Regions from separate parts of the Homo sapiens genome. Here regions 1, 2, 3, 4, 5 and 7 are each linked to region 6. Evidence: fine-mapped expression QTL. A gene starts in region 6. Each other region holds a variant in brackets. All regions are shown on one strand. Distances are between the middles of the regions.

Region 1 (4,063 bases), 130 kb after region 6:
GCGAGGGGGGCTGGTCGTGACGGTATCTCTTTCCAGCTGTGACGAGGATGCCACCTGGGCTTCCTGCTGACCTGGCCGAACCCTGCCAGGTGTCTGTGAGGACATCCTGCCCTCACAGTGATTGTAGACAACCGTTGCCTTTTCTAGTGATCAAAGTAACACGTGCTCGTGAAAAAGCACAGAGGAGAAGCAGCATCTCCCATAACCCACAGCACAGCGACGGCCCAGCTCACACCTTGCCGTTTTCTGCTTTCCTCTCATCTCGTTTTCTGCTTCCTAAAAACATAAATGTTGGCCGGGTGCTGTGGCTTACGCCTGTAATCCCAGCACTTTGGGAGGCCGAGGCGGGCAGATCACTTGAGATCAGGAGTTCGAGACTAGCCTGACCAATATGGTGAAACCCCATCTCTACTAAAAAAAAAAAAATACAAAATTAGCCGGGTGTGGTGGCGAGTACCTGTAGTCCCAGGTACTCGGGAGGCTGAGGCAGGAGAATTGCTTGAACCCAGAAGGTGGAGGTTGCAGTGAGCCGAGATCTTGCCACTGCACTCCAGCCTGGGTGACAGAGCGAGACTCTGTCTCAAAAAAAAAAAAAAAAACCATAAATGTGGGCGCTGCACCTATAGCCTTGGGCACTTGGATGCTGGCCCCCCCTTGTATCCTAGGCATTTCTCGTTGTCATAGCAGACTTCGTAACACAGGTTCTTACCGGTCCCATAGAACCCTGTCACACGGAGGGCGTGAGCCGTCCATCCGTGTGCCTAGGCAGTCTGGCTTTCTGTGCCTGGAACCACTGCTGTGTAGATTCTTGTTTAGACTTGAGTTCACCTCTAGGAGACACCAGAAGTGATGGGTTGGGTTAAAGGGAGGGAATTCCTAAAGGCTGGGTAACGTCTCCGGCGTCACTGGCATGGGCACCATCTCACAGGGTGGCATCCCCGCCTCCTTCTGTGGCGGTTGCCATTTCTGTGGACACTGGTGAGAAGGAACATTTTCCCTCATGAATATTAGCCACGTAGCTTCTTTTTTTTTGTGAACTTTGTCTTCTTTGTGAGCTCTGTCTTTTTTCCATTTGGTCAGCTATTGAGGTTGTTTTGTGGGTGGCAATAGGTTAAAAAGTAACCTTGGGTTGGGCATGGTGGCTCATGCCTGTAATTTGGGAGGCCGAGGCAGGCGGAGCACCTGAGGTTGGGAGTTCGAGGCCAGCCTGGCCAACCTGGCGAAACCCCGTCTCTACTAAAAATACAAAATTAGCCGGGCGTGGTGGCAGGTGCCTGTAATCCCAGCTACTCGGGAGTCTGAGGCAGGAGAATTGCTTGAGCCTGGGAGGCAGAGGTTGCAGTGAGCTGAGATCGCGCCACTGCACTCCAGCCTGGGCGACAGAGGGAGACTCCATCTCAAAAAAAAAAAAAAAAGTACCCTCTACTATAACATATTTCAAACACACACAAAAATACAGCGCAGAGTAAGATCAGCTTCCTGGGACCTGTCACTCAGATGCAACATCTGTCAACATTTTGGTGTCAATATGGTTTTGTGTATCCAAAGCCACACCTTTATTCTGGAATCTTAAAATATACCTTCAGACATTAAGTTGCTTCACCTGTAAATATTTCAGGCAAGAAAAAGAAATAAAATGTAAACATATTGAAACAGAAAAAATAAAACTAGCCCTGCATACAGACGACATGATTATCTACGTAGAAAATCCCAAGGAAAAAGCACCCAGAATTCATAAGTCAGCAAGGTCAGAGAAAAAGCCTGAAAAAGGTCAATCTAATTTCTATATACCCACGATCAGTGATTAAATCCTAAAAATTCAAAAACATTTTATAATAGCTCCAGGTTAAGGAAGTTCCTTCCTATTCTTAATTTTCTGAGAAATTTGTAAAATCATTAACAGATGTTGCATTTTATCACATTTTTTTTCCGTATCCATAGGCTCATATGGCTTCTCTCGTTGCGTCTGTTGACATGGTGGATTGTGATGGCTGGCGTTCTCTGTTGAACAGCCTTGTGTTCTCAGGGTAAACCCCACTTGGCCATCATGTGCTCATGCTTTCCATGTTTCTGGATTTGATCGCTAGTGTTTTGTTGAAGATTTCCACATCTATGTGCCTGAGAGGTTTTGTCCTGTAGTTTCTTTTCTTGTGATGACTTTGGTGTTGGTATTAGGGGAATTCTGGCCCTGCGAAATGAGTTGAAAGTGTCACTTCCAGCCGGGCATGG[T/C]GGCACATGCCTGTAATCCCAGCACTTTGGGAGGCTGAGGCGAGTGGATCACGAGGCCAGGAGATCGAAACCATCCTGGCTAACATGGTGAAACCCCGTCTCTACTAAAAATACAGAAAATTAGCCGGGCATGATGGCGGGCGCCTGTAGTCCCAGCTAGTCGGGAGGCTGAGGCAGGAGAATGGCCTGAACCTGGGAGGTGGAGCTTGCAGTGAGCCGAGATCGCGCCACTGCACTCCAGCCTGGGCGACAGAGCAAGACTCCAACTCAAAAAAAAGAGAAAAAAATAAAATAAAATAGAAAGTGTCACTTCCACCTCTATTTTTTGATTAAGTTTTGTATAGAATTGGAGTTATTTTTATGTTTAAATATTTCGTAAGATTCACCAGTGAATTTATCTGGACCTGGAGTTTTCTTTTTTGGGAGGTTATTAACTATGGATTCAACTGCTTTAGTGGAGATAGGGCTGTTCAGGTTATTAGTTCTTCTTGAGTGAGTCTTGGTAGTTTGTGGATTTCCAATTGGTCCAGTCATCTGAGGTGCTGAATCCGTGCATGGAATGCTCCTTTGTTATCCTTACAATGCCTGTGGGCTCTGCAGTGACAGCCCCTCTGTTATGCCTGTAATGGGTCACTTGTATCTTCTCTTTCTTTATCAGTTTTACCTATTTTTATTGACTTTTCCAAAGAACCAGCTTCTGATTCCATTGATTTTATCTAATATTTTTGTTTCTATTTTTCTTAACATTTTATTTACTTATGTTTTTTGAGATGGAGTCTCGCTCTGTCACCCAGGCTGGAGTGTAGTGGCGCCATCTCAGCTCACTGCCTCTGTCTCCCAGGTTCAAGTGATTCTTCTGCCTCAGACCCCCAAGTAGCTGGGATTACAGGCATGTGTCACCACACCTGGCTAACTTTTGTATTTTTAATAGAGACGGGGTTTCTGCATGTTGGCCAGGCTAATCTCAAACTCCTGACCTCAAGTGATCCGCCCACCTCAGCCTCCCAAAGTGCTGGGATTACAGGCATGAGCCACTGCACCTGGTTATCTGTTTTTAATTCCACTGACGTCGGTTTTATCTTTACTATTCTTTCCTCTGATTGCTTTGGTTTTCTTTGGCTCTTGTTTGTCTAGTTACCTAAATTAGAAGCTTAGGTTGTCAATGAGATGTTCTAATATAAGCATTTATTGCTAAAAATTTCCCTCTAAGAGCTGCTCTAACTGCATACCAAAAATTTTGATATTTTAAATTTTCATTTGTATTTAGTCCAGAATGCTTTCTAATTTCTTCTAGGAGAACTTCTTTGATCCATGGATTACTTACAAGTGTAATTGTTAATTTCTCAGCCTCTGGGGTTTTAAAGGTATCTTTAGGTCATTCATTTCCAGTTTAAACCCACTATTGTCAAAGAACATGCTTTACATAATTTTAATTCTTCTAAATCTGTTAGTTTTGTTTTATAAGCCAGGATATGGTTTCTCTGGAGAGTTCCATGTGTACATGACAAGAACGTGTGTCCTGCTGCTGTTGGATGGCAGATGCTGTAAATGTCATTTAGAAATTGTTGGCTGATGGTATTGTTCTCCTGTATCCTCCCTCCTTATCTACCTAATTGTTCTGTTGATACTGAGAGGACTGTTGAGGCCCCAGCTAGAGTTGTGAGTCTGTTACTTTTCCTTTCAGTTAAAGGTCTGTTATGAGGGCAATACACGTTTAGGTTTTTATGTCTTCTTGGTGAATTGACCCTTTTGTCATTATGTAATGTCTGTTTACCCCTAATAATTTTTCTCGTTCTGAAGTTGACTTTATCAGATATTGTAGCCATTCCAGCTT
Region 2 (4,063 bases), 49 kb after region 6:
AGTGTGTTGAAATCAGAGTTAAGTCAGCACTCACCCCACAGCATGTTGAAATCGGAGTTAAGTCAGCACTCACCCCACAGCATGTTAAAATCAGAGTTAAGTCAGCACTCATCCCACAGTGTGTTGAAATCAGAGTTAAGTCAGCACTTGTCCCGCAGCATGTTGAAATCAGAGTTAAGTTCATACTGGCCTCGCAGTGTGTTGAAATCAGAGAGTTAAGTCAGCACTGACCCTGTAGCATGTTGAAATCAGAGTTAAGTCAGCACTCATCCCGCAGCATGTTGAAATCATAGTTAAGTCAGCACTCATCCCACTGTGTGTATCAGTCAACACTTGAGGGAGTTATGCTTTGTGCTGACCCTTAGTGCAAAGTGTGTGGGTCACTGGGGGATGGCTGTGGGCCGATGGCACCTGCTTCACCATGGTCCACGTTTTTAAGCTGTCCCAGGAGCTTCCCTGGGAGCATCCCCAGGACCCTCTGCTCTCTGTCTTCCAGGACCTTCTGGACCCTGCACGGTGGCGGATGCTGATCCAGCAGTTCCGGTACGACAACTACCGACTACACCAGCTGGGAAACAATTCTGTGTTCACCCTCACCCTGCAGGCTGGCCTCTCAGCCATCAAGACACCGTATCCTACCTCCCGTGCGCAGTGCGGTTTGGCCTGGGGTTGGCATCTTTGGTCATATTTTAACACGCTGACCCTGCACCTTGCCACTCTTGTCCTCCCACCACAGACAGCCCCGAGCTCCCGTGTGCTGCACTTGCGTGGTGTCTGGATGGTCGGGGTGGGGCCGTGTTGAGGGGCCTCGGATGCGTCGTGCAGCCTTCACTCTGGGAAGTGGCGCGCTTCCTCTCTCATCATCTCAGAGGCCGCCATGGGCATTGATCTAAAAGCCCGATTTTGATGTGTTCTGGCAGCCGGCAGATTACCATTCAGAATAGTTTTCCCGTGTGATTACCAAGAACCTTGCCTGTGACTGACTCTGTCCCGCCTGTGACTGACTCTGTCCCACCTGTGACCGACTCTGTCTGCCTGTGACTCTGTCCCTGCCTGTGACTGACTCCATCCTGCCTGTGACTCTGTCCCACCTGCGACTCACTGAGTTCCTGCCTGTGACTCACTCGGCTCCCGCCTGCAACGGACTTGGTCCCTGCCTGCGACTCACTGTGGCCCTGCCTGTGACTGAGTCTGTCCCGTTTGTGACTGATTCCTTCCTGTGACTGACTCTGTCCCACCTGCAACTGACTTCTTCCTGCCTGTGACAGACTCTGCCCCTGCCTGCGACTGAGTCTGTCCCTTCCTGCAACTGAGTCCATCCCGCCTGTGACTCTGTCCTCGCCTGTGACTGACTCTGCCCCTGCCCTGTGACTGTCTCACCTGTGACTGACTCCGTCCTGCCTGTGACTCAGCCTCTTACTGACTCTACCCCTGCCTGTGACTGACTCTGCCCTCTCCTGTGACTGACTCTGTCCCCACCTGTGACTGACTCTGTCCCCACCTGTGACTGACTGTCCTCCTGCAACTGACTCTGTCCCCGCCTATGAATGTCTTTCATGTGACCTGCCTCAGGCCCAGAGGGCAGTGAGTGTTTCGCGATTGCTGCTGGTACCTGGCTGTGCCGGGGTATGAATGAGACTCAGGCCCCCTCCCTTGTCCCCTCTTTGTGGAACTCTGGGCGAGAGGGCTGGCGTGCTTGCCCACTGCCTGTTCCTAGGTGCCAGCAGAACGTCCCTGCTGGGTGGCTCTTGTCCTGCCTGGAGAGGTTGCGTGGCCGGGGAGAGGGCGGCGGGCGACGGAGCCACTCTGTGCCTGTGGTCCTGGTGCTGGAGGCCGGGGTGAGAAGGCGCAGGCTTCTTGTCTCCACCGAGGCCTCAGTGGGGCTGTTTAGCTGTCGAGTGCAGCACTTCCTGTGCCTCGAAAGACAGCCCCGTGTAGTCAGCATGGCGCCCACATAGCCAGAAGGGCACGCAGCCCAGGGCAGAGTGGCCACAGGGGGCTGGGCTCACCCCGGCTGCCCTGAGTGGCCCCCAACCCTTCCTTGACCCGATGCTCAGACAGTGCTACAAGGAGGACGGCAGCTCCAAGAGCCCTGACTGCCCTGTGTGCAGCCGCTCCCTGAACAAGCTGGCGCAGCCCCTGCCCATGGCCCACTGTGCCAACTCCCGCCTGGTCTGCAAGATTTCTGGCGACGTGATGAACGAGAACAATCCGCCCATGATGCTGCCCAACGGCTACGTCTACGGCTACAATGTGAGGGGGGCAGGGCAGGGGGGCCAGGCTGGCACGCATCGCCATCGGGACAGGGCTGTGTGGGACGGGCAGGGCAGGGGGGCCAGGCTGGCACGCATCGCCATCGGGACAGGGCTGTGTGGGACGGGCAGGGCGGGGGGCCAGGCTGGCACGCGTCGCCATC[G/A]GGACAGGGCTGTGTGGGGCGGGCAGGGCAGCGGGGCCAGGCTGGCACACGTCGCCATTGGGACAGGGCTGTCCTCTCGCCCCACCCTGCCTTAGCTTCGTTCGAAATGGATGAAGGGGTGGGAAGGACAGGCGAGGTGGCCCCGGGATTTCTTTGGCAGGTGTGCCTTCGGGAAGGAACTTTGCCTGAGAGGATGAGTCATTCCCTGGTGGTTCATTGTGGGGATTTTCCATGGAAATCCGTGTGTACGTTGTAGTCGCTTGCCTTAATGCATTCCCGGTTTTATTTTTCAGTCTCTGCTTTCTATCCGTCAAGATGATAAAGTCGTGTGCCCGAGAACCAAAGAAGTCTTCCACTTCTCACAAGCCGAGAAGGTGTACATCATGTAGGCCCCACGTCGTGAAGCGCACGCCTCGGGGACGGGCTGCAGTGGGCGGGGAGGCCACGCCTTCCTCCTGTCCCACGCTCCAGCCTGCCGCGGCGTTTCTGTTTCTTGCGACCAAAGATCCGTGAGCAACGATAAATACTCTTAGGAAGAGAGAAAATAAGGTTTCATAAGTTTGTACTTGAAAACATTTGGATTGGTAGGATTTTGTAACACGTCAACCATTTGATGCTTCTGAAAAGTACTTTCAACTTGCGAAGGAAACTCTTCTTTAAAGACTGACCTAAACACCGAGGGAAACTTAAGAACGTTTAAAATATAGGAGTCCGTGATTTCCCTGTGTTTTCAGTTTCTTTCCTTCTGTGAACGATGAGACTTGGAGAACGGGCTGGTCCTTCACCACTTCCTGTTGGCCCTGGCCTGGCCGGGGAAGGTGGCAGCGGCACCGGACTGACCTGCAGTGACCCGCGATGCCGCGCCACGAGGGACACTTATGGCTTCATTCGAGAGCTGCTGCCAAAACGCCTGGCGCCGCCACCGTCGGGGGCTGGCTTCGAGGACGCCCGCCTGCCTCGCGGGTCGTGTCCGCGGGACTGTGTTCGTACGTGCATAGTTTCGATATCACATCGCGGGGCTGTGTTCGTAGCTGCGTCGTTTCGATATCACACCCTCTGTGTGCCGCCTTACTTCCTGCTTCGAGAATGTATAACGTGGAAATCCACGGGACCAAATTTCTGCAGAGGCCTTGCCGGATGGTTCCATAACTGTAGAGTCTAATTGCTATCCATTACAGAAATTAATCGTTCAGTTGAAAGAAGTACTGATGACTTTTCAAAACAAATGAACCACCGTAGCTGACAGAGAACCGTATCGTAGAGGTTTGTAGTTAGTGCTTATTTTTGCATGTTGATGTTGACTAGCTAATAAACTGTAAATGTAAACCATGCGAATAAAATGGTTTTCTATTTCTCATTTCCGTGTGAGCCGAGGCTGCCGTGCGTTTCTAACACCGAGGTTGTGTTCTGCTCCTCCCCGGGGCCCGGGCAGCATGGCGGGCATATGCGTAGCTTCTGGCACCACGGCCACCGGGAGTTGAGAAGCCGGCTGGAGGCCACTCCTGCCCGGACCGCAGTCCTCCTCTCGGGCGCTGCCCTGAGGCGTGATGGCCCCAGCGTCTTGAGGCCCCGGCTTGCAGCTGGGTGAATCAGACACTGGTTCCTGGGACCCACGGGCCATTGTCTGTTGGGGGTGGGGGCTCAGGC
Region 3 (4,063 bases), 57 kb before region 6:
TGCAGGGCCACAGCTGCTAGCATGTGCGCTTTACCACGTGGCGGCCACGTCATCCACAGGTCCACAGGCCAGGGTGCCACAGCGGCTCAGCCTCAGGGTCTACCTTCCTTTCCCCCTCGTGGCTGCCACGTGGCTGCTCCACCCCGCCTGTTGCATTGGTCTCCCACGGAGAAAGTCTGCAGGAGGTGGGTGCAGCCAGGTGTGTCCCTTTAGATCGGGGCCCAGCAGCCTCCCAGAAACCACCTCAAGCCAACACCCACTGATGTGTCCCCTCCACCGCCAGGGGCTCAGCCCCACTCTGCTCAGTGCCCTCAACTCCAGTGCTCAGAGCAGGCTGGGGAAAGCTGGGTGCCCAGGAAGCTCGGCTGCCACCGGGCTGGAAACAGACCCCAGGACGCTCCTGGTGGCAGCTGGCTCTTGGGGGTCAGGAAGGGGCCCGCCAAGCCCACCTCCTGCCATGCAGTTCTGCCACCTGCTTCTGTGCTCAGGACTCGACGTCGCACTTACCTTTCCAGACCTCGTGCACAGGGGTGGCTTACTCTGTGAAACTGCTGCTCACATCAGGTCACCATCAGGGCAGATGTTTCTCTACGACACGCAGCCACATGCAGGCCCAGGGTGGGGCTGGGCTGAAGACCGCAGGTTTCAGATTTCCAGAGAAACTGCCAAAGCACCATCGAGACCGGCACGGCCGTTTCTATCCCACATGAAGGGCCAGGCCCAGGCTCCCTCAGCACGGCTGGTGCAGGGCTCAGCGCAGGCCAGGCCAGGGGTTACCGGCGGTGCCTGCTGCACCTGTGAGAACCCAGGAGGCGCACCCCGGTTCTCATACACCGCTCTGTCTGTACCAAACGCCACCGCCCTCATCCATTTTCTGTCGGGATTTTTCTGTTTCTACTGATTGGGAGGAGTCTTTGAATATATAAACTTTTTCATTTACTTATTTTACAGACAGGACCTCGCTGGACTGCAGTGGTGTAATCATGACTCGCTGCAGCCTTGACCTCCTAGGCTGAAGCGATCCTCTGGCCTTGGCCTCTGGATACGCTGGGATGACAGGCACAGCCCCTGCACCAGCTCTGAGTGTTATCAGACATTCACCCTTAGGCTGGCACACAAATTGAAAATACCCAACCCCTACCTCTCCCGTTTTTATTTTTTAAATTTATTTTGCTATGTCATTCTTTCTTTTTTTCCTTTTTGAGACAGAGTCTTGCTCTGTTGCCCAGGCTGGAGTGCAGTGACACGATCTTGGCTCACTGCAACCTCTGCCTCTTAGGGTCAAGAGGTTCTCCTGCCTCAGCCTCCTGAGTATCTTGGACTACAGGCGCGCACCACCACGCGTGGCTAATTTCTATATTTTTAGTAGAGACGAGGTTTCACCATGTTGCCCAGGCTGGTCTTGAACTCCTGACCTCAAGTGATCCACCCGCCTCAGCCTCCTAAAGTGCTGGGATTATAAGCGTGAGCTGCTGCACCCCACCTTGCAATGCTGTTACTTCTAATTGCCATTTAATTAAAGTGACCTTTTCCTCTGTAGTATCACATTTTCCACAGAAAACA[T/C]TGTATGTTCTGTATTGTCATAACCTCAGGTAATAAACACATTCTCTTGCAAGCGTTCCTCTAACTGCTCTTCATTCAAACACGTGGCCGCTTCAGTAGGCAGCGAGCATCTGTGGTGGGGGGAGCTGCTGCAGTTCCTGAACGGCCACCCCAGGGGCCCCAGAATTCACCGACTCCCCAGTCCTCGGCCCACACACCTGAAAAGCCACTGCCTGAGTCCTTGGGTCCTGCTGGGTGGGATTGTCTCTGATCCTCTGTCCTGTCTACTCTTGGTGGTACCAACACTGCCCAACTGGATCTTCTAGACCTGAGAGGGGGTCCTGGGGTCTGGACATGCCCTGCGGGGGTCGCACTGCACCCGAGGCTCAGCTGGGCACTGGGCAGTCTGCCTGGAAACAGGCCCCTGCATACGGTGATGGGGTCTCTGTCCTCTTGGTCCTAGAAGCGACTGTGACCCGGTATTAAGGTCAGAGCCCACGGCAGCCCGTCTCTGTGCCAGCCGCCAGCAAGAGACCGAGGGGCTCCAGGCCTGTCCTACACTCCATTACCATGACAACGCCAGCTTGTGTGTTTTTCCCAGTCACCATGACAACGCCTGCTTGTGTGTTTTTCCGGGATTTCTAATCACTTCGTTTCCTGCACAGCCCCAGCACCTCTGTCTGGCGGAGCTTTCTGGTGGCCTCCCCACCCCCAAGGCGTGGAGATGCTTGTCTTGCAGGAGTGCAACTGTCCAGCTGGCTGCAGGTCCTCGCAGGCCACTGCGTCCTGTGCCCTCCCGGAGCCGCCCTGCCGCTCCAGGCCCCGCAGCCCACACCGGACGCAGCCTCCAGGCTCCAGGGCTTCCTTTTTCTTGCTCAGCAGTTTGATCAGATGTGCAGTGCTGGGCTGAAAACCCTTCTCCTGTGGAAATTCCAAAGCAGGCGAGTGGGGCTGGGCTGAGTCTTGTGTCCCGGTGGGTGACATCCCCCACCCGTGGTATCAGTAAAATCCCAGTCCTGAACCTGAACACTGGGGCGCCTCCCAGGCCCCGACATTCTTCCCGCTCCTCCTGTGACCGCACTGACGGTATCACGTTCTCTCCCTCCACGGCACTCAGACGGCGGCGACCTCCAACCAGCTATGCGGGAAGTTTCTGCCCCAGGAGGCAGAATTCCTGACTAACAGTGGCACACAAAGCAGGTGTTCAGTTTCCTCCCACGCCAAAGCCTGGAGACAGGGAGCCTGCGGCCCCGCTGCCCTCTCCACAGCCACGAGGGTCCCTGCCTCCTGCCTTGTTGCTCCACGGTTCCCAGCACGTGGCTCCCCTCACAGTCCAAGGTGGCTACCCCGGGTTCCAGCCAGCAGGGACGAGGAGGGGACGGCAGGGAGAGGCCCTGCTCCCCTCTGTTCTGGAGCTCAATCCTTTGGCCACCCCTAGTGGCAAGAAAGCGTGGGCAGCCAAGTCCTCCCACAGGACCACACACTGCGAAACGCGGACTCGGCATCCAGGCAGCCCCTGCAGACTCCACACACAGCCCCGGGAGGTCACGGCTTCTCTTCACCTCTCTGGCTTCTGCAATGTCCCTGTGTCTTTGAGCTTCCTGTTTTTATGAGATTTTCACTCATGTTTTTAATTTCAAGCTCTCCTAGTTCTTGGGGGCTCCTTTCTGTGGCGCCGGCTCTGCTTCTGGTTAGGGGCTGCTTCAGGCCCCTCCAGGATGCCAGGACGGTTCCCAACACTCTCGTCTCTTCCAAGAATCCAGCTGCATCCCCTGGGGCAGTTTTCTGTGTATTTATGTTGTCCTTTCTCTGCCCTGGGCTGTGCAGCCTGGGTGGGGAGCAGGAAGTCTGTCTCATGCCAGGGCCCACGCCGGCCCCACCCCAACCACTGATCTGCATTTTATATGAACCTGTCAAGGCAGTTTGGGATTACTGCAATTTTAGAAAAACATCTGTTTTGCCTTAGCTTTCCAATTTGTTGGCAAAACTGTTTGAGTATTGTTTACGACACCAAAAGTTTTCTACGAGCCTCTTTTTTATTCTTACGTGTGCATCTTTAATACAAATCCAGCTTCCCAATGAGAAAACCGTACCTAACAAAGGGCACTGTCCAAACCGAGCTGGTGCCACACAACTCCCTCAGGTGTGCACCACGGGCAGTTCACCCACAGCCCCTTGCATGCGTGTGGACATGCCCACGTGACGTGCCAACGTGCCCATGTGCCGATTCCAGACACCGGCCTGCCGGCGGCCCCCCCACCTACACCCCGGGCCACTGTTTCCGTCACGCTAATCCTATCACCTGGGGATGAAGAGATCATACAGTGTGCACCCCTTGAAACCAGCTTCTTCACTCGCCATCATGCTGCCGAGATCACCCAGGGTGTGGCAGGGACCCAGCGTTCATGCCTGTTGCTGAGGAGGACACCGAGGGAGGTGGCCAGCATTTGCCTGGCCACTCACCCACTGAAGGACAGCCGGTGGGGGGCGTCCTTCTGGTTTGGGCTATGGTGAGTTAAGC
Region 4 (4,063 bases), 41 kb after region 6:
CTGCAGTGGGCCGGGTGGCCGAGTGTTCCACAGAAGGCCCATTTGGAGAAGTGGGCGTCTCACGATGAGGTGCTGAGGGTGGTCCCCAAGACGCACGGCAGAACCGCGGCAAGTCCCTGCCCTTGCGTGGACCCTGGAGAGGCCCGGGGTCCTGCTCCGGCTCCTGATGCTGACCTGGGCGCATGGTGGCAGGTCAGGCCTCGTCTTCACGCACGAGGGAGCCAGGCCTGCAACGAGGTCCCTTCTGTGCCTGAGAGGGCTAAAGCGGGGATCTCGGGACCCGGGCCAGTGGAGAGTGGCGTGTGAGCATTGCGGGGACACGGCCAGGGGCCCCCTGTCAAGAGGAGGGGCTCCCGCTCTGCTCTGGCCTCCGTGTGGCCTCGGTGCCTGTGTCGCTGGCCTCTGTCCGGCGGCAGTCTGCTTCCATCCCGAGTCAGCCTCCGTCTCCTTGAGGGCCCCGGCCACTGTCAGCCCTGGAGTCTGAAAACAAAACGTGTCCATCCCGGAGTCCCTCCGTCACAGATGTCTTCATCTAGGTGGCAGCTGGTTCCGCATAGGGTCTGTTGACCTGTTACCCCCACTCCGCATAGGGTCTATTTGCCTGTGTTACCCTGGCTCCGTGTAGGGTCTGTTTACCTGTGTTCCCCCCGCTCCGCGTAGGGTCTCTTTGCCTGTGTTCCCCCCGCTCCGTGTAGGGTCTCTTTGCCTTGTTCCCCCTGCTCTGGGTAGAATCTGCCCTAGAGACTCGCGGGGCCTCCACCTCATAATGTCTGAGCCGAGCTCAGAGCTGTGCCCTCTGCGGCCTCGTCTGTTGCAGGGGAGCAGGCAGGTCCCAGGAAGTGCGTGTCCTTCCTCCCGCAAGCAGACACGTGCTGCCTCGAAGCCTCAGCAGCCAGCCGGGCAGGCATGGCAAACAACACCCCAGTGTCTCGGGGGCAGGCGCAGTGTGAGCTACATCCTCTGCTGGGGCCGTCTTGGGAGTGGTTCTCCAGGTGCCAGGGCCTGGTCAGGGAAGTCCGGCCTCAGCTCAGCGTGGCCCTGGAGCCACCCACAAGGCACACGGGAGCTGGGCTGGGGTGGCAGGTGGGGCATCGGCAGGACGTTTGTGGGGTGAGGGAGTGCGGGTGTTTGGCTGGGAGCCCAGAGGGTGTTGTGTATCACTCACTGAGGCTGGACAAGAGGGAAGGCGGAGAAGCCTGGCCACATGTCTCCTGAGGGCTCCAGGCAGGGCCCTCTCACCTGCTGCCAGGGTCCCAGCCCGCAGGAGCTTCCCGTCCACCTCTGAACTCACGGTCCACATGGCGCTGGAGCGTCGGGCACCATCTACAGGGCTTGAGGCCAGCAGCCTAGCCTCTGGGTCCACTGGGGCAGGCAAGGTGAGTCCTGCTGTCTGTGGAGCCAGCGTGCTGGGCCGGGCAGGGGGCCTCGTTGGCTGGGGTGGCTGCAGCTCCGCCCTGCCTGGGGCATTTGTGGGTTTTTGCGAAATGCAAAAGTATGAGCTGCTAGTGATTAACTTTTAACGCCTTTAATTTTTAGTAAATGAGTAAGTGAATCCCTGACCCCAGGCGGCTGGGACCTGGCCTGTACTTCATGGGCTTTGTGTGAGCAGCTCCGTGCCGTCTGTCGCACACCCACACCTCAGCCTGGCCAGGCACAGTTTAGGAATTTTGTCTTCTGGGTGTTTCTCTCTCTCTCTCTTTCCGTGTGTGTGTGTGTGTGTTTTGAGGTTGAGTTTTGCTCTGTTGCCTGGCACAATCTCAGCTCACCGCAACCTCCGCCTCCCGGGTTCAAGTGATTGTCCTGCCTCAGCCTCTGAGTAGCTGGGATTACAGGCGCCCACCACCACGCCCGGCTAATTTTTGTATTTTTAGTAGAGATGGGGTTTCACCATGTT[G/A]GCCAGGCTGGTCTCAAACTCCTGACCTTGTGATCCGCCCACCTTGGCCTCCCAAAGTGCTGGGATTACAGGCGTGAGCCACCGTGCCTGGCCCGTGTGTTTATATTTTTAAAGAAAAATGGAAGTTTTTGTGTTTCTTATGTTAGCTGCATTTAGTTTGTTAAAAGTCACGGTTTTGTTTCCCCTGTGTCCTGTGGATGCATACCGTGCTGTTCTCCCCGGACCTGCTCTGAGGGCCCCACATCTCGGCTGCAGTTCTCTGTGTGTTGGGGCTGAATGCTGGCATCAAACGATCTGAAAAGAGTCAGCCGCCACTGTTAGGTTTTCTGTTTCTGTCTTGGGGTCAGGATTTGTGGATCAGGGACCTGGGGTGCGAGGTGAGGCAGCTTGTTAGGCGGATGATGTCTGTCTGGGGTTTGATTGATGGTGAGATAAGACGCGTAAACCAGGTCATGCAAATGAGATCTTGTAGATGTCAACCACGGAGATTAAATTTCCTCTCTTCAGCAGCTCTGGGAGGAGGTGAGATGCCCGTTGGCCGTGTTCTGTGCACGTCTTGGCGTGTGACGAAGGGTGACTTGTCTCCAGAGATGGAATGAGGGGGTTGGGTGGGGCTCCTCCTGGACTCAGACCCACGCCCACCCACACGCTCCAAGGAGGGGGATGCATGGGCACTGGAATCTCGGATGGCCGTCCCCAGCCCCTGCACACGCACCCTGCGGGGTCAGCCGTGTGGACTCACCCCCGACTCCCAGTCCCTGTATGCACCCTGCGGGGTCGGCCGTGTGGATTCACCCCCGACTCCCAGGCCCTGCACAGGCCCTGGGGCGTCAGCCATGTGGACTCCCCAGGCTGGGTCCCAAGCGTGGACGCCCCCCACTCCCTGCTGCCCCGGGCTCTCCTGGTGGTGCTTCCAACACGTGGTCCCCGTGCTATCCATCAAGGGGCTGCTGGGCCACCTCCTACACTAACTCCAGTCTCTGCGAGACACTGCATCTTCTCCAAGGCCACCGTGAGCGCCTGGCACCTCCTCAGCCCTGTGTTCCTTGGTACATGCCTTGTTCTGGACAGCACAGGGCTGACTCACACATGGGACTTGAGGCCCCTGGTTCTGTGCATTGGGGTCGCTTTGGCAGAGGGGCCCTGAGGGCTGAGAACGTGGGGTGCACAGGGGCCCGTGTGAGGGTCAGGACATGGGGGTGCAGGCCCTCAGGACAGCCAGAGGGACAGTGACCCTGTGTGTGGGGGGGGGCATGAGAATGGGGGCCCTGGGGGTGAGCAGGTGCCCGCTGGTCAGCTTGAAAGGGATCTGTTATGTTCTGCTTTGGTTTCTTGGTTGCCCAGCCTTAGACTGGAGTGGGGTTCTGGCCTGGAGTAGGCCTGTGTGCATCCCGCAGAGTTGGCTCAGGAAAGATCGTGGCTGCATGTGGTGTGTGGCACGCTCAGGGCTGAGAGGGCTGGGCCGGATCTGCAGGGAGTCCAGCCTGTGGGCTGAGGGAGGCTGTTCTTCGGAAGGTTGTGCTGGGCGTCACTGCCAAACAGCAAGGACTGCAGTTGAGAAGACTACACGTTCTTGGTCCGCTGGGGCCACGGGGTCCGTGGGGGCGAGCATCTGGGGAGAGTGGGAATCCTCAGGGTTTGGGTTCCTTGTAAACCAGAATCGCTTTGGAGAGCCCTCGGGGGCAGGTGCCATTTGCAGTTCTGGTGTTTTCCGTGGGTTGTCTGTGTGGCTTGGGTGCCCTGGTCCCCTGGAGGAAGGAGTGTCTGGTAGCTGCTCCTCCAGCCTCTGGTGAGCCGCACCTCCCGCCATCCCAGCCCCACCCAGCAGGTCGGCTTGGAGTGAGGCGATTACTTTGTACCTAGACTCTGACATAAAAGCTGTTAGCTCAGATTTTTCAACTTAAAAATGCAGGCCGGGTGCAGCGGCTCATGCCTATAATCCCAGCACTTTGGGAGGCCGGGGCAGGAAGATGGCTTGAGCCCAGGAGTTGGAGACCAGCCTGGGCAACACAGCGAGAATCTGTCTCTAACAAGATGTTTTTTACATTAGCTAGGTGTGGTGCTGCACATCTGCGGTCTCAGCTTCTCGGGAAGATCGCCTGAGCCTGAGAGTTCGAGGCTACAGTGAGCTGTGACTGTGCCACTGCACTGCAGCCTGGGTGACAGAGT
Region 5 (4,058 bases), 57 kb after region 6:
AAACAAAGATCCCTATTTTCAGGGACTGTATGTTTTAGGAGTGAAGAGAAAAAAGCGAATCACCTAGTAAGACAGTAAGTCTGTGTGACACAAGGGCCAGAAGTGCCCTGGGAACAAGCACGGCAGGTTTAGAAAACGGATGGGGGGTGTTGAGCCAGGGAGGTGAGCGGGTGCAGAAGTATTTGCTCAGGGTGAGACATGAGCAGTGGCTGGAAGGAGGCAAGGAACTCTGTGGATACTGGCAGAAGCTTCCCGGCAGAGGGATCCGCTCCCCAGAGGCCGTGTGGCAGCAAGAGCAGGCTGGAGAAGTCAACCGGTGGGATGCAGGGGGCAGCAAACACAGGCCACGACAGGTTTTGCCTTGCCCTGGGATGGGAGCCGTCGGAGGATTTTGTGTAGAGGAATCCTGTGATCCGACCTTAGACTTTCAAAGGTCCCTCTGGTTGCTGCATGATGGTCTAGGGGTACCAGGGTGCAAGGGAAAGACAAGGTGACGGCAGTGACCTGCTGCAGGGGTGGCCAGGAATTGGCAGTGGCAATGAGGCAGTGGGACGTGCTCAGATCTGGATGTGTTCTGAAGGTAGGGCTGTCAGGATTTGCAAACCAAATGGGCATGGAGTGAGAGGAAGAGAGAAGCCCAAGTGAGTCAGATAATTGGTCCAAGCGAACAGAAGGATGCAGGGCAGGCCCAGGCACGGTGGCCCAGGCACGGTGGCTCACGCCTGTAATCCCAGCACTTTGGGAGGCCGAGGCGGGCGGATCACCTGAAGTCAGGAGTTCGAGACCAGCCTGACCAACATGGTGAAACCCCGTCTCTACTAAAAATTCAAAAATGAGCTGGGCGTGGTGGCGGGTGACTGTCATCCCAGCTACTCGGGAGGCTGAGGCAGGAGAATCGTTTGAACCCGGGAGGCGGAGGCTGCAGTGAACCGCGATCGTGCCACTGCACTCCAGCCTGGGTGACAAAGCGAGACTTTGTCTCAAAAAAAAAAAAAAAAAAAAAAAAAAAAAAGGCTGCAGGGCCATCAGCGGATACAGAGGGCAGTGGACGGGCAGCTTGGCTGTGCTGTTGAGCCTGAGGGCTGAGAGGACACCCCGGGGCAGTGTAAAGGAGACTGGACTTAGCAATTGGTAAGAAAAGTTGGATAAAGAGAGGGTTTTGTTAGTATGGGAGAAACGGCACCCTTTTATACTAATGAGAACTAGTAACAACAAAAAAAACCACGCTGTAGAAGACAGAGGGAAACTGCTGGATGGGTGCCTTGGAGGAAGCCACAGGCCGGGGATTGGATGCACAGGGCAAGGGGCGCTGAGGGAGGGTCTGGCTGCAGCTTGCTCAGTGAAGCAAGAGGCAGGGTGAGGAAGGGGTGAGGCGGAGGAGCGGCTCGGGGCTGGCTGCAAGCTAGGAGCTGGGAGCCACTGACGCCCAGGGACAGAAGCTGGTGCTGCAGAGAGGGGCGGCGCAGGGAGTCCCTCTTCTTTTCCTTTTTAAAATAATTGCTTTACTGAGATATAACTCACACATCCTGAAACCCACCCTGTAAAAACACGATTAACAGAGTTGTGAGCTACCACCACCGTAATGCAAGGGCACGCCCATCCCCCCGAAAAAGAAACCCCGGCCCGCCGCCGGCGGCCCCCGCCCTGCACCCAGCCCCGGGAGCCCAGTCGGGCGTCTGCTCTGCGTGGCCTGTGCCGGGCGCCCCGCGAGTGGGGTCCACACCACGCTCCTCCGAAGCCACGGTTTCCCAAGCGCGGTCTCCAGGTCCGTCCGTCCGCAGCCGACCTCGCACTCCCCTGCGTTCGAGGCTGCGGACTTCGGCGGCAGGACGGACGGCGCCTCTGCTTCTCATTCCGCCCAGGGCCAGCCCGGGCCCAGGGGTACCTGCTGTGCGTCTGGCGCCGAGGTGGGCCCCGAAGACCCCCAAGCCCGCCCAGGGATTCCCTTCCCGAGGCCGGAGCGGGGAGGCGCCGCGGGGTTCAGGGCGCCCTGCGCGGGGCGAGCTCGGGGGCGGGGGCCCGCGCCCGCCCGTCTGGGCGGTCCTCACCGGCCCTCTGCAGGTGAAGGGACCTGGCTGCGAGCCCGCGGGCGGGCGTGGCGTTGAGGCCCAGACCGGAACTTCCTTTCGGCCTCAGTTTCCCGGCCGGCCCCGCCCCCGGCGCCCGTACATGCGGCCCCTTTAAGGACTTTCTGCGCCCTCCCGCCTCTTTTTTCTCGTGCGTCCCCCTCCCCACCCCCGGCAGCCTGCCTCGCCCTCGCCGGGAGCGCGCCTACGTCACCGCGCAGACCTCGGCCGCGTCTTTGCGCCTGCGCCTCCTGGGCTGGGGTGAGCCATTGGCTGTCGAGCTCAGGGCACGTG[C/A]TAGGGGGCGGGGCCTTGACCGGAAAGGGTGGGGCAACGGCGAGAAAGGCCGCGTCGAGCGGTAGGTGCAGTCGTCGCTGTGGTGACCCCAGGTCCTGATGCGTCCGGCCCAGGGCCAGCCAATGGCGGTAGAGGTCTTGGGCACCTGACAAGAGGGGCGGTCCCCCCGCCGGAAGGGGCGGGGCGAGGCGAGCGGCCGCGTCAGCGGTAGGTGGGGCTGTGGTTACGCTGCCGGGCGGGGGTCGCGCCGGTTCGGTCCCCGGGGCTCTGCGGGCGCCGGGCAGAGACCTGCGGCCAGGGCGTGTCCCGTGTGCCCGAGAGCGCCGGCGGCGGGGCCGGAGGGCGGGCCCTGGGCCGAGTGACAGGCCGCAGCCCCCCGAGCACCGTCGAAGCCGGCGCGCCCGCCCGGTGCAGCCGCTGTGCGAGAGCGACCCCGCGGTCCAAGCCTCGCGTGGCCCTGCCGGGCCCCTTCTTTCCCCGAGTAGGGCGCAGCTTCCCAGCCTCCGCCCCGGCCTCGCCTGGCGCTTCCTTCCGGGTCCTTCGGCCTTTCCCTGGCGGTGCGGCAGGCCCTCGCCTCATCCCACCAGGCACGCCGCGGTGCTCGGCCCTGGGTATCCGGGCAGGCTGCCTCCGTTAGGGCCGCCCCTGCTCTCCGGACGCGACTTTTCATTGGTCTCAGAATTTCTTGGCTCCTCTTGGCCTCTGCAGCCTTGCTGGAGGCTGCCCTGCGGAATCTGAGTGAATAAGGGAAACAGCAACAGTCACGTTGGGGAAAAGCTGATTCGGACAGCGCCACTGGTTCCTTTAACGCACGACCCTCAATGCAGCGTCCCACACACGGGATTGTAGAGGTCCCGAGTTTAAGGTTCACTTTTAAAACTGCAATCACCGCCGTAAAGGCCTTGCTGGACACACATATTTCCCAGAGAGGCACCCACAGATGGACCCCAGCCTCAGGGTCCTCCCGGAGCTTTCGGTTTATAGTGGAACCCAGTAAACACGTTAATAACACCGAGAGCTATAAAATACAGATGGTGATATAGCATCTCTGCCTTACTTATTTCTAGATATGGATCAGAAACTTTCGAAGTTGGTAGAAGAGCTCACAACTTCAGGAGAACCCCGACTAAATCCTGAGAAAATGAAGGAACTGAAGAAAATTTGCAAGTATGTCTTAGGGTTCAGTAACAGTAACTGACTGGCCCACTGAGCCCAGGACACACACAGGGCCCTGCCCTCCTGCCCCCACCTGGGAGAGAACCACCCGAGGGACACACCCAGGACATTTTCTCGGGGCCCTGCAGTACCCGGCTCTGACGGGTGGTCATGTTCTGGGGTCGGGGCGTGTGGCGTTGGGGACCCCACTGCTCTGTGGTTGGTGCTTCTCTTCATTCCCATTTGTGTGGTCTGGAGCACATCCTGTAGGAGTTCTTGAGTGCACAAATGTGATTCAGAGAGAAACGTGCATCTTTTTCTTTGCTGCTGGACTTTTCGAAGGGAAAGAATAGAGCTTGCTGATGGGCGAGTTGGTCCATCGCCTTTAGGGTATGTCCACCTCTGTTCACTTCCTCCAAGGAAAACGCCGGAGGGGATCTCTGCCGTCACCCTCAGGCAGCCAGAGATTCATGGGGGAAGCAAAACTTCCCCTCGGAGGGTGGAGCATAAGTCGAGGACACTGATTATTCTGTATCCTGTGTT
Region 6 (4,063 bases):
GCCACAGCACCCGGCCAAGTCTAGCAGCTTTTTAAGATCTAGATATGAAACATTTGCCATCTATTGCTTCTAATGGTGGCCACCTATGAGGCTTCATCTATGTAATAAGAACGTTGGTCTCCACAACCCCTTTTAACCCAGATGCTCCTTTCTCTCGATTCCAGATCTTTAGATAAGCACTCTTTCAACCAAATGCCAATCAGAAAATCTTTGAATCCACCTGTGAGCTGGAAGCCCCGCTGTGCTTTGTGTTGTCCTGCCTTTTCGGACCAATGTAAATCTCACATGTACTGATTGATGCCTACATCTCCTTAAAACGTATAAAATCAAGCTGTAACCCAACCACCTTGGGCATGTGTTCTGAGGACCTCTTGAGGCTGTGTCACTGGTCATGATCCTTAACCTTGGCAACATAAACTTCTAAACTGATTGAGATCTGTCTCAGACACTTTTTGGTTTACAAAAGGACTAATTCAAATACAGTTTTATCTTCCAACATAAGAAAACCTAGAATGAATGACTCAAAGGTTGTAGAGGGTTAAACAACCTCTCCAACGTGCAAACCTCTGCCTTATAATTCCTAAGTATTTCTGACTGTAGATGGTACTAGGATAGGATCATTTTACCATGGAAATGAAACCCGTGTCCTTTCCTTTGGGTTAATCTTGAATCCCTGGTGAAGTGAAGGCAGTCTCTAAGAGGAGTGCAGTCCATCCAACTGCTGCAGTGCTCCTGTGTACTACTGGGACCATCCCGGAGAGTGGCAGACACGATGCGAACCGTGAAAGGACGCAAAGAGTACAGAGTGCATGCTTCCATCTCTATAGGAAGGTCAGGAACGCTGTTACGGGGAGCAGGGTTAGAATGATGGGGATATAGCCCGGGAAGGGGCAGAGGAGCTTTCTGTGCCACGGGAAATGTCCTAAATCTCAACCAGGACACGGTTAGATAAAAGTGCAAATATGGGTGAAAATTCATTAAAGCTGTATAGTTAAGATTTGTGCACCTCACTGTAAAACTTACTTCAAATGTCTAAAAGACTGGAGTCTGCAGCCACACACTTGAGGAATAACACTTTCCTTAGTCCCAACTCCTGTTTAAGTAAGACAGAGAAAGATTCCACAGTGCGGGTCGGATGTCTTGCGGCTGTAACATGTAGCAGCCTCCAAGCGGAGGTTCTCCCTTCATCGCTGTGTCACCTTAGATGTTTTTCCTTTGTTTAAACACCAAATATTTTAAAAGTTGTTTAGAAATGTGTTATGTGAAACACAAGGTGGTTTAATTGGGACGTCATTTCCTAATTAATAAAATCTAATTTCAGTTTTATTTTGGAAAGGAGGGAGACGGGTGGTGTTTGAAAGGCTGAGAATGTGAAGTGGCTGAAATGAAGGCAGCGCACGACCTGGATGCCAGCGCTGCCCGCCCTGCAAGGAGAGGGCGGAGAGGCCACACGCTTCTCATGCTTCGGGAGTTTCTGTCCATAAATCAGTTTTAGGTACTGGGCCTTTCCTCTTCCGTTGGGAAGTCGGAGGTTCCACATCAGGATTCCAGCAGCTGTAAATCGGTCAAAATAAGGCCAAAGAAAAATAGCTGGCTACAGGCGCATGCGGCCAGGCGTTTTGTTGGCGTTGCCCTTGGTACCGCAGGCACGAGGGACCCACAGGGGACCACCCCGCGGGAGCCCCAAGTAACTGGACGGACGCCAAGTCCCCCAGCCCGCTCGGCCCCAGCTCCACCCGCCCGGGCCGCAGCCCGCACCCCATCGGCCCGCCCCGGGCCAGGAGCATCCCCAGCTCCGGCGTCTGCGGCCTGAACCCGGTAGCGAATTCAAGGTGGAAACCGCCAGCCGGGGCTATCGTTGATTGGCTGAACGAGAGGAAACCCGGCAGTGATTGGTTCGCGCCTTCTTCCGCCTCCGGCCGACTGGGCGGATACGATTGGTGCAGGGGCATCGGCCCGCCCCCATCCTGCTCCGGCCGGCGCGTGGCGTCATTTCCCGGCGTGCAGCGCGCTCGCGCGTCCCCCGCCCGCTAATGTTTTGGCCGCTTCAAGATGGCGGTGCAGGAGTCGGCGGCTCAGTTGTCCATGACCCTGAAGGTCCAGGAGTACCCGACCCTCAAGGTGGGCGCCTGCGCCGCGCAGGCTGAGGGCAGCGAAGGCGTCTCCAGCCAGTGCCCTCGGGCCGCGAGGGGCCGCCCCGGGAGGGCCAGCGGCGAGGGCGGCGGGAGCTGGGCGCGGCCTCGCGGGGCCGTGCGGGCTTCTCAGGGGCGCCCGGTCCGCGCCGGGCAGGTGTGGCGGGGGCGGCGGCTTTGGCCCTGCCAGGCGCCCGACTGTGGCCCCTCTGCTTGAAGAGCTGCGTGAGCCGAGCCAGCGACGACTCTGGCAGCGCTAAGGGTGGCGAATTTGGGGCTGGGGTGGAAGCCGGAGTTTGCGGGGCGTGGGGTCTCTGGCGCCCAGGCAGACGGAGTGCGCGGCGTGCCCAGCCAGTGCCCGGCCGCCCTCCCGGGAGCCCAGGGCTGGGAGGTGCCGGCTGCGCCGGTCGCTAGTTAGGAACTGTAGGGAGAAACCTCACGGCCTGATGGCACCCAGCGACCTTTTTGATGGGCGTCACCAAACCTGAAATACAGCTCTTGCCGTCCGGCTGCCGGTTGCGTGACCTTGGGTGGTCACCTAGCCACGTCGCACTTCTTAGAATGAAATTTGTGCTCCTAGTAGAAGGAGCCGATACTTGTTCTTTACCTAGTTAGTAGAGGATTTGATATGAAGCACCTGGGAAGGAATTCCTTAAAAGATCAAGGTCATAGCTTTCCTAGAGCTGCGGCTGAGCTTCGTGGTTCTGTGTTGCCTTCCTGGAGAGCTGCGTAGTTTCTCTCTCCTCCCAGAGCGCCCTGGTGTTCACGTCCGTCTGAGGACGGACGGTGTGGCGACAGGTGTGGAGGATGCAGTATGGCCAGGTTGCTGTGCGTTCCCCCAGCCCCAGGGCAGTTCAGCGAAGGGCTGAAGAGCACAGGCTGTGAGCCATCCTGCTGGGGTGTGAATCAGGCTTCTCTGTATTCGTCCTTACTGGGAGACATCAGGGCCCGGTTGGTGACTGTTTATTCTTGTCAGGTTTAAGCAGTGGTAGCGCCTGTGTCACCTCAGGGTGAAATGAGTGACCACGTATTGTTTCAAACAGTGCCTAGCATTCATTAAAAGGTCCCTGCTACAGTTAGCGCTGCTGAAGTCAGGCTGTACCCTGCTGTAGCTGGTCTTCATAGGAAAGCAGAAGCAAGCTTCTCCTCCTCTTTATTAACTAGCGGTTTATTTCATATTTTTAAAAAGAAACGGGGTTTCACTGTTGCCTAGGGTGGTTTTGGATTCCAGGACTTAAGCGATCCTCCTGCCTTTTGACCTCCCAAAGCGCTGGGCTGACAGGTGTGAGCCACGCGCCCGCCACACTAATGGTTTCGCAGTGGGGTTTCATGGTGCTTGTGTGTCCAGCACTTCTTTTGATCAAGGAAGGGAGGGCAATGTTGCTGACGTTACCAAAGGTCTAGCCTCTTGCTAGATCCCTCCAAGATGTAGGTGGTTGGTTTTTAATACTCAGTGACATTGGTGGATCTCTGTTGGTTTAGAGATGGAGACCCTGCAGCTGAGAGAAGTCTATACAAGGACATTGTGGTGATATTAGTAGGGAGTCCTAACCACTGACCACTTTGTCTCACGCAGTGCACCTCCAGGCCTGTCATTTCAGCTAACACACAAGAAGGTTTGAAGATCAGAACCGTGGTGGTTTGTCACTTCTGGTACTGGCTGGTGAATGTGGGAAACACTAGATAGGAAAAGTTTCCAGAAATCCTTTCATTGTGTATTGAAGGAACTAGGAAGGGAGATGGAAGGTCTCCGGAAAGGATTCTTCTTCAGGTCTTCTGCTGTTTTGTAATCGTGAATGTAATTTGTATTCCAGAGTGATTGCATAGCTTCTGATTAAAATAGTCATGCAGATAGTCATACAGGTAAAGAAATATTATAGTGTCATAATTTCTCTGTTGACACTTGTGTCACTACTGAGTTAAAACTTTTT
Region 7 (4,058 bases), 98 kb after region 6:
CCCCCCTGCTGCAGCCCTCCAGGTTTCCAGCCCTGGCCGTGGAGCCGTGCGTGCAGCAGCGGGCAGGGCTGTCCTGACGCCTCCTGGCTGCATCTCCTGCGAGGCCGCTCCCCGGGAGGCCAAGGGGGAGGCTGCCCTCATCCTGGAGTGCGGGAGGCCACGGGAGAAGTGCCAAGGTGGGGCTGGGGCCACCTTCACCGCGCAGAACCACCCGCCGCAGACTCCGCTTCTGGGACCTGGGGCGGCCCTTTCTAAGCCTGTCTGTCTCGGGCCAGGGCCAAGGGGCCCGTCGCCCATCTGTCTCTGAAGGTGGCACCCACAGGCAGTCTGTCAGTGTCCGAGGGCAGCAGTTGCCCCAGGACCAGTGCCTAACTTTGGTGATGCCGCCACTGGGAGCCCAGGCCCCTGGCGGAAGCCTCCCAGGTCACATCTTGCCTTGTTTCCCCACAGGGCAGCTGTGCGGAGGGTAGTGGCAGCCATGAACCGGATGGACCAGAAGAAGCACGAGAAGTTTTCAAACCAGTTTAACTACGCACTGAACTAGAGAGCGGGGCCCAGTGCACTGGCCATCAGCACTTTCTCCCTCTGCCAGTGTCTCAGGACAGCAGAGTGGGCGTGGGTCTGGGCAGTAACCATGCTTTGTCTATTACTGTGTTTGATGTAAAGAAATGGTGTGTTGCAATGCCCTGAAGGTACGGCCGCTCTGCTGCTACAGGGTTCGGCATCGTCTGGTGATGGGTCTGGCCTCGCAGAAGAGGCCCTCGGGCCTGGAGATGTGAACACAGGCAGCGACCCTGTTCCAGAGGGCTTCTGCGAGTCCTCGTGAGACCAGTGCTTGTCGTGGTGTGGGGTTCAGCACGGACGGAATGTGTGTGCAGCTCAGCCTTCAGAGCGTGCATTCCCCAGCCAGGAGGCGACCACTCAGAGGAACTCTGGGAAACCCACTTTTGTGCAAATGCTGTTTTTAACACAAACACAAAGGCTAGTGAACCGTTCAGTCATCTGCTTTCTGTTTCTGGATGTGCCTTTTCATACATGTGTCCTCTTGTCCCTGGCTTCTTACACTTGGCGTTGTTTTTAAGGTTTATCCATGCAGTTCCCCTCCAATGTATAAAACAAAGGAGGTGAAAACCTGTCCATGCGGAAGCTTGTGCACCCATGTTCACAGCAGCATTGGAGAAGGATACCGAACATCTTCTCGTGGGCTTACTGGCCATTTGTGTATCTCCTTTGGAGAGGAGTCTATTCAAACCTCTTGCCTATTTTTAATTGAATGATTTATCTTGAGTTGTAACAGTTGTTTTTTTTGTTTTTCCTTTTAGAGATGGGCTTTTGCTCTTACCCAGGCTGAGTGCAGTGGCAGAATCATAGCTCAGTGCAGCCTCAAACTCCTGGGCTCAAGCCATCCTTCCACGTCAGCCTCCCAGGTAGCTGGGACTACAGGCACACACCACAACACCTGGCTAATTTTTTAAATTTTTTGTAGAGATGAGGTCTCACTGTGTTGCCCACGGTGATCTCGAACTCCTAGCCTCAAGCGATCCTCCTGCTTCGGTCTCCCAAAGTGTTGGGATTACAGGCATGAGCCACCACTCCTGGCCAGGAGTTTATATGTATACTGTGGATACTAGATCCTCATGTGATTTGCAAAAACTTTATTTATTTATTTATTTATTTTTGAAATGGAATCTTGCTCTGTCGCCAGGCTGGAGTGCAATGGCGTGATCTCGGCTCACTGCAACTACCACCTCCTGGGTTCAAGCGATTCGCCTGCGTCAGCGTCCTGAGTAGCTGGGACTACAGGCGCGCACCACCACGCCCAGCTAATTTTTGTATTTTTAGTAGAGACGGGATTTCACTGTGTTGGCTGGGATG[G/A]TCTTGATCTCTTGACCTCGTGATCCACCCACCTCGGCCTCCCATAGTGCTGGGATTACAGGTGTGAGCCACCGCACTCAGCTGATTTGCAAAAACTTTCTTCCATACTGTTGTTTCACTTTCTGGATAGTGTCCTCTGAAGCACAAAAGTTAATTTTGATGAAGTACAGCAATTTATCTGTTTTTTTCTTTTGTTGCTTATGCTTTTGCTGTCACATTTCAGAAGCCATCACCTAATCCAAGATCACAGAGATTTACACCTAGTTTCTAATAAGCATTTTATAATTTCAGCTCTTATGTGTAGATCTTTGATCCATTGTGAATTAAGTTTTGTGTGTGGTGTAAGAGCCCACATTCTTTTGCATGTGGATATCCAGTTGTCCCAGCACCATTTGTTGAAAACATTATTTTTCCCCATTGAATTATCTTCGCACCATTATTGATAATCAGTTGACCAAAAATGTACAGGCTTATTTCTGGGCACTTGACTCTATTCCATTGACCTGTTTAACCTTATGCCAGTGCCACAGTGCCTTGATCAGTGCTGCTTTGTTGTGAGAAGTTTTACTTTGTTCTGCTTCAAGGCTGTTTTGACTCTTCTGCATCTCTTGCATTTCCAAATGAATTTTAGGATCCACTCATCAGTTTCTTCAAAAAAAAAAAAAAAGCAGCTGAGATTTTTGATAGGAATTACATTAAATCTAGAGATTGCTTTGGAATGTATTACCGTCTTAATATTAAATCTTCTGAGTCATGAGCTTCTGATTATCTTTCCATTTATTTGGGTCTTTTTAAATTTATTTCAACAGTATTTTGTAGTTTTCAGTATATAAGTTTCTCACTTATTTTGTTAAATTTACTCATATTTTATTATTTTTGATTTATAACCAAAAGGACTATAAATGCAATTATAAATTATTAAAAGATTATAAATTGCATTTACAAAAGCAATCACAAATGTAATTGTTTTCCAAATTTCACTTTGGGGCTGATCATTGCTAATATGTGGAAGTACAACTGACTTTTGTGTATTGATCTTGTATCCAGCATTCCTTGCTGAACTTGTTTATTCATTCTAATTAGTTGTATGTTCCCTAAGATTTTCCATACACAAAATCATGTCATCTGCAAACAGCTTTCTTTCTAATCTGGATTTCTTTTATTTCTCTTACCTAATTGCTCTGGCTAGTACCTCCAGGACAATGTTGAATAGATGTGGTGAGAACAGACATCCTCGTCTTACTCTTGATCTTAGCGGGAAGCTTTCGGTCTCTCACCATTGAATGTGATGCTAACAATGCAGTTTTGTGTAGATGCTTCTATCAGGTTGAAAAAGTTACCTTCTCCTCCTAGTTTGTTGAGTGTTTTTGTCATAAAGTATTGAATTTTGTCAGATGCTTTTTCTCCATCTGTCGAGATGATAGTATGATTCTTGTCCTTTATTATAGTGATACAGTATATTACATTGTTTCTCATATATTGAACCGACCTTGCATTCATGGGGCAAATTCTACTTGTTCATGGTGTATAATCCTTTTTCTATGCTGCTGGCTTTGGTTTGCTAGGATTTTGCATCTGTATTCATGAGGGATATTGGGCTGTAGTCTTTTTGTGATGTCTTTAGCTTTAGTCACGTCACTACTGACCTCATAGATTGAGGTGGGAAGTGTTCCCTCCCCTCCTATTTTTTGGAAGAGTTTGTGAAAGATTGTTGTTAATTATTTAAACATTTGGTGGAATTTACCAGTGAAGGCTGGGCTTTTCTTTGTGGGATTTTTTTCCCTAATTCAGTATCTTCATTTATTATAGATCTGTTTAGTTCCAGTAGTTTGCATCTTTCCAGGAGTTTGTCCCTTTCTAGGTTCTTTGTTGCAATCTGTTCATATATAATGGTTCATAGCATTAAAAAAAATTTTTTTAACTGACAAGGTCTCACTCTGTTGCCCAGGCTGGAGTGCAGTGGTGCAATCATAGCTCACTCCAACCTCAGACTCATGGGCCCAAGTGATCCTCCCACCTCAGCCTCCCCAGTAGGAAGGACCACAGGCATGCACCACCACATTCAGCTAATTTTCTGTCTTTGGTTTTGTTTTGTTTGAGACAGAGTCTTGCTCTGTCACCCAGGCTGGAGTACAGTAGCACAATCATGGCTCACTACAGCTTTGACCTCCCAGACTCAAGCA

What was found. PIP is the estimated chance that this variant, and not a neighbour inherited with it, causes the effect.
Region 1: its variant is fine-mapped to the expression of MAEA in whole blood (TOPMed, PIP above 0.99).
Region 2: its variant is fine-mapped to the expression of MAEA in whole blood (INTERVAL, PIP above 0.99).
Region 3: its variant is fine-mapped to the expression of MAEA in whole blood (INTERVAL, PIP above 0.99).
Region 4: its variant is fine-mapped to the expression of MAEA in whole blood (TOPMed, PIP above 0.99). The same link has a PIP of 0.9 or more in breast and tibial nerve.
Region 5: its variant is fine-mapped to the expression of MAEA in whole blood (TOPMed, PIP 0.99).
Region 7: its variant is fine-mapped to the expression of MAEA in whole blood (GTEx, PIP 0.97).

The regions. Positions count from the first base shown.
Region 1 is chr4:1,419,096-1,423,158 of GRCh38, forward strand. No RefSeq gene overlaps it. Among named protein-coding and RNA genes, the nearest start is that of NKX1-1, 15 kb to the left of the region's middle. The variant T/C (reference allele first, on the strand shown) is at 2,230.
Region 2 is chr4:1,336,365-1,340,427 of GRCh38, forward strand. It overlaps MAEA (macrophage erythroblast attacher, E3 ubiquitin ligase), which reads left to right. Exons shown (of 9, transcript NM_001017405.3): 7 at 497-630; 8 at 2,058-2,253; 9 at 2,710-3,773. The coding sequence ends at 2,805. Among named protein-coding and RNA genes, the nearest start is that of UVSSA, 8.8 kb to the right of the region's middle. RefSeq lists an enhancer at 2,818-3,336. The variant G/A (reference allele first, on the strand shown) is at 2,417.
Region 3 is chr4:1,231,128-1,235,190 of GRCh38, forward strand. All of the region lies in intron 3 of CTBP1 (C-terminal binding protein 1), which reads right to left. Among named protein-coding and RNA genes, the nearest start is that of CTBP1, 16 kb to the right of the region's middle. RefSeq lists an enhancer at 2,800-3,355. The variant T/C (reference allele first, on the strand shown) is at 1,564.
Region 4 is chr4:1,328,628-1,332,690 of GRCh38, forward strand. All of the region lies in intron 5 of MAEA (macrophage erythroblast attacher, E3 ubiquitin ligase), which reads left to right. Among named protein-coding and RNA genes, the nearest start is that of UVSSA, 17 kb to the right of the region's middle. The variant G/A (reference allele first, on the strand shown) is at 1,895.
Region 5 is chr4:1,344,663-1,348,720 of GRCh38, forward strand. It overlaps UVSSA (UV stimulated scaffold protein A), which reads left to right and starts at 2,546. Exons shown (of 14, transcript NM_020894.4): 1 at 2,546-3,098; 2 at 3,428-3,527. The coding sequence starts at 3,430. RefSeq lists enhancers at 263-786, 787-1,309, 3,155-3,234 and silencers at 1,605-1,694, 1,915-2,244, 2,485-2,924. The variant C/A (reference allele first, on the strand shown) is at 2,361.
Region 6 is chr4:1,287,862-1,291,924 of GRCh38, forward strand. It overlaps MAEA (macrophage erythroblast attacher, E3 ubiquitin ligase), which reads left to right and starts at 2,030. Exons shown (of 9, transcript NM_001017405.3): 1 at 2,030-2,121. The coding sequence starts at 2,053. LOC105374347 (a long non-coding RNA gene) reads right to left here and starts at 1,710. Exons shown (of 3, transcript XR_925046.3): 1 at 1,024-1,710. It overlaps LOC105374346 (a long non-coding RNA gene), which reads left to right. Exons shown (of 2, transcript XR_925043.3): 2 at 165-433. RefSeq lists silencers at 1,551-1,960, 2,061-2,340, 3,429-3,611.
Region 7 is chr4:1,385,418-1,389,475 of GRCh38, forward strand. UVSSA (UV stimulated scaffold protein A) reads left to right here. Exons shown (of 14, transcript NM_020894.4): 14 at 451-2,632. The coding sequence ends at 544. Among named protein-coding and RNA genes, the nearest start is that of NKX1-1, 19 kb to the right of the region's middle. The variant G/A (reference allele first, on the strand shown) is at 1,876.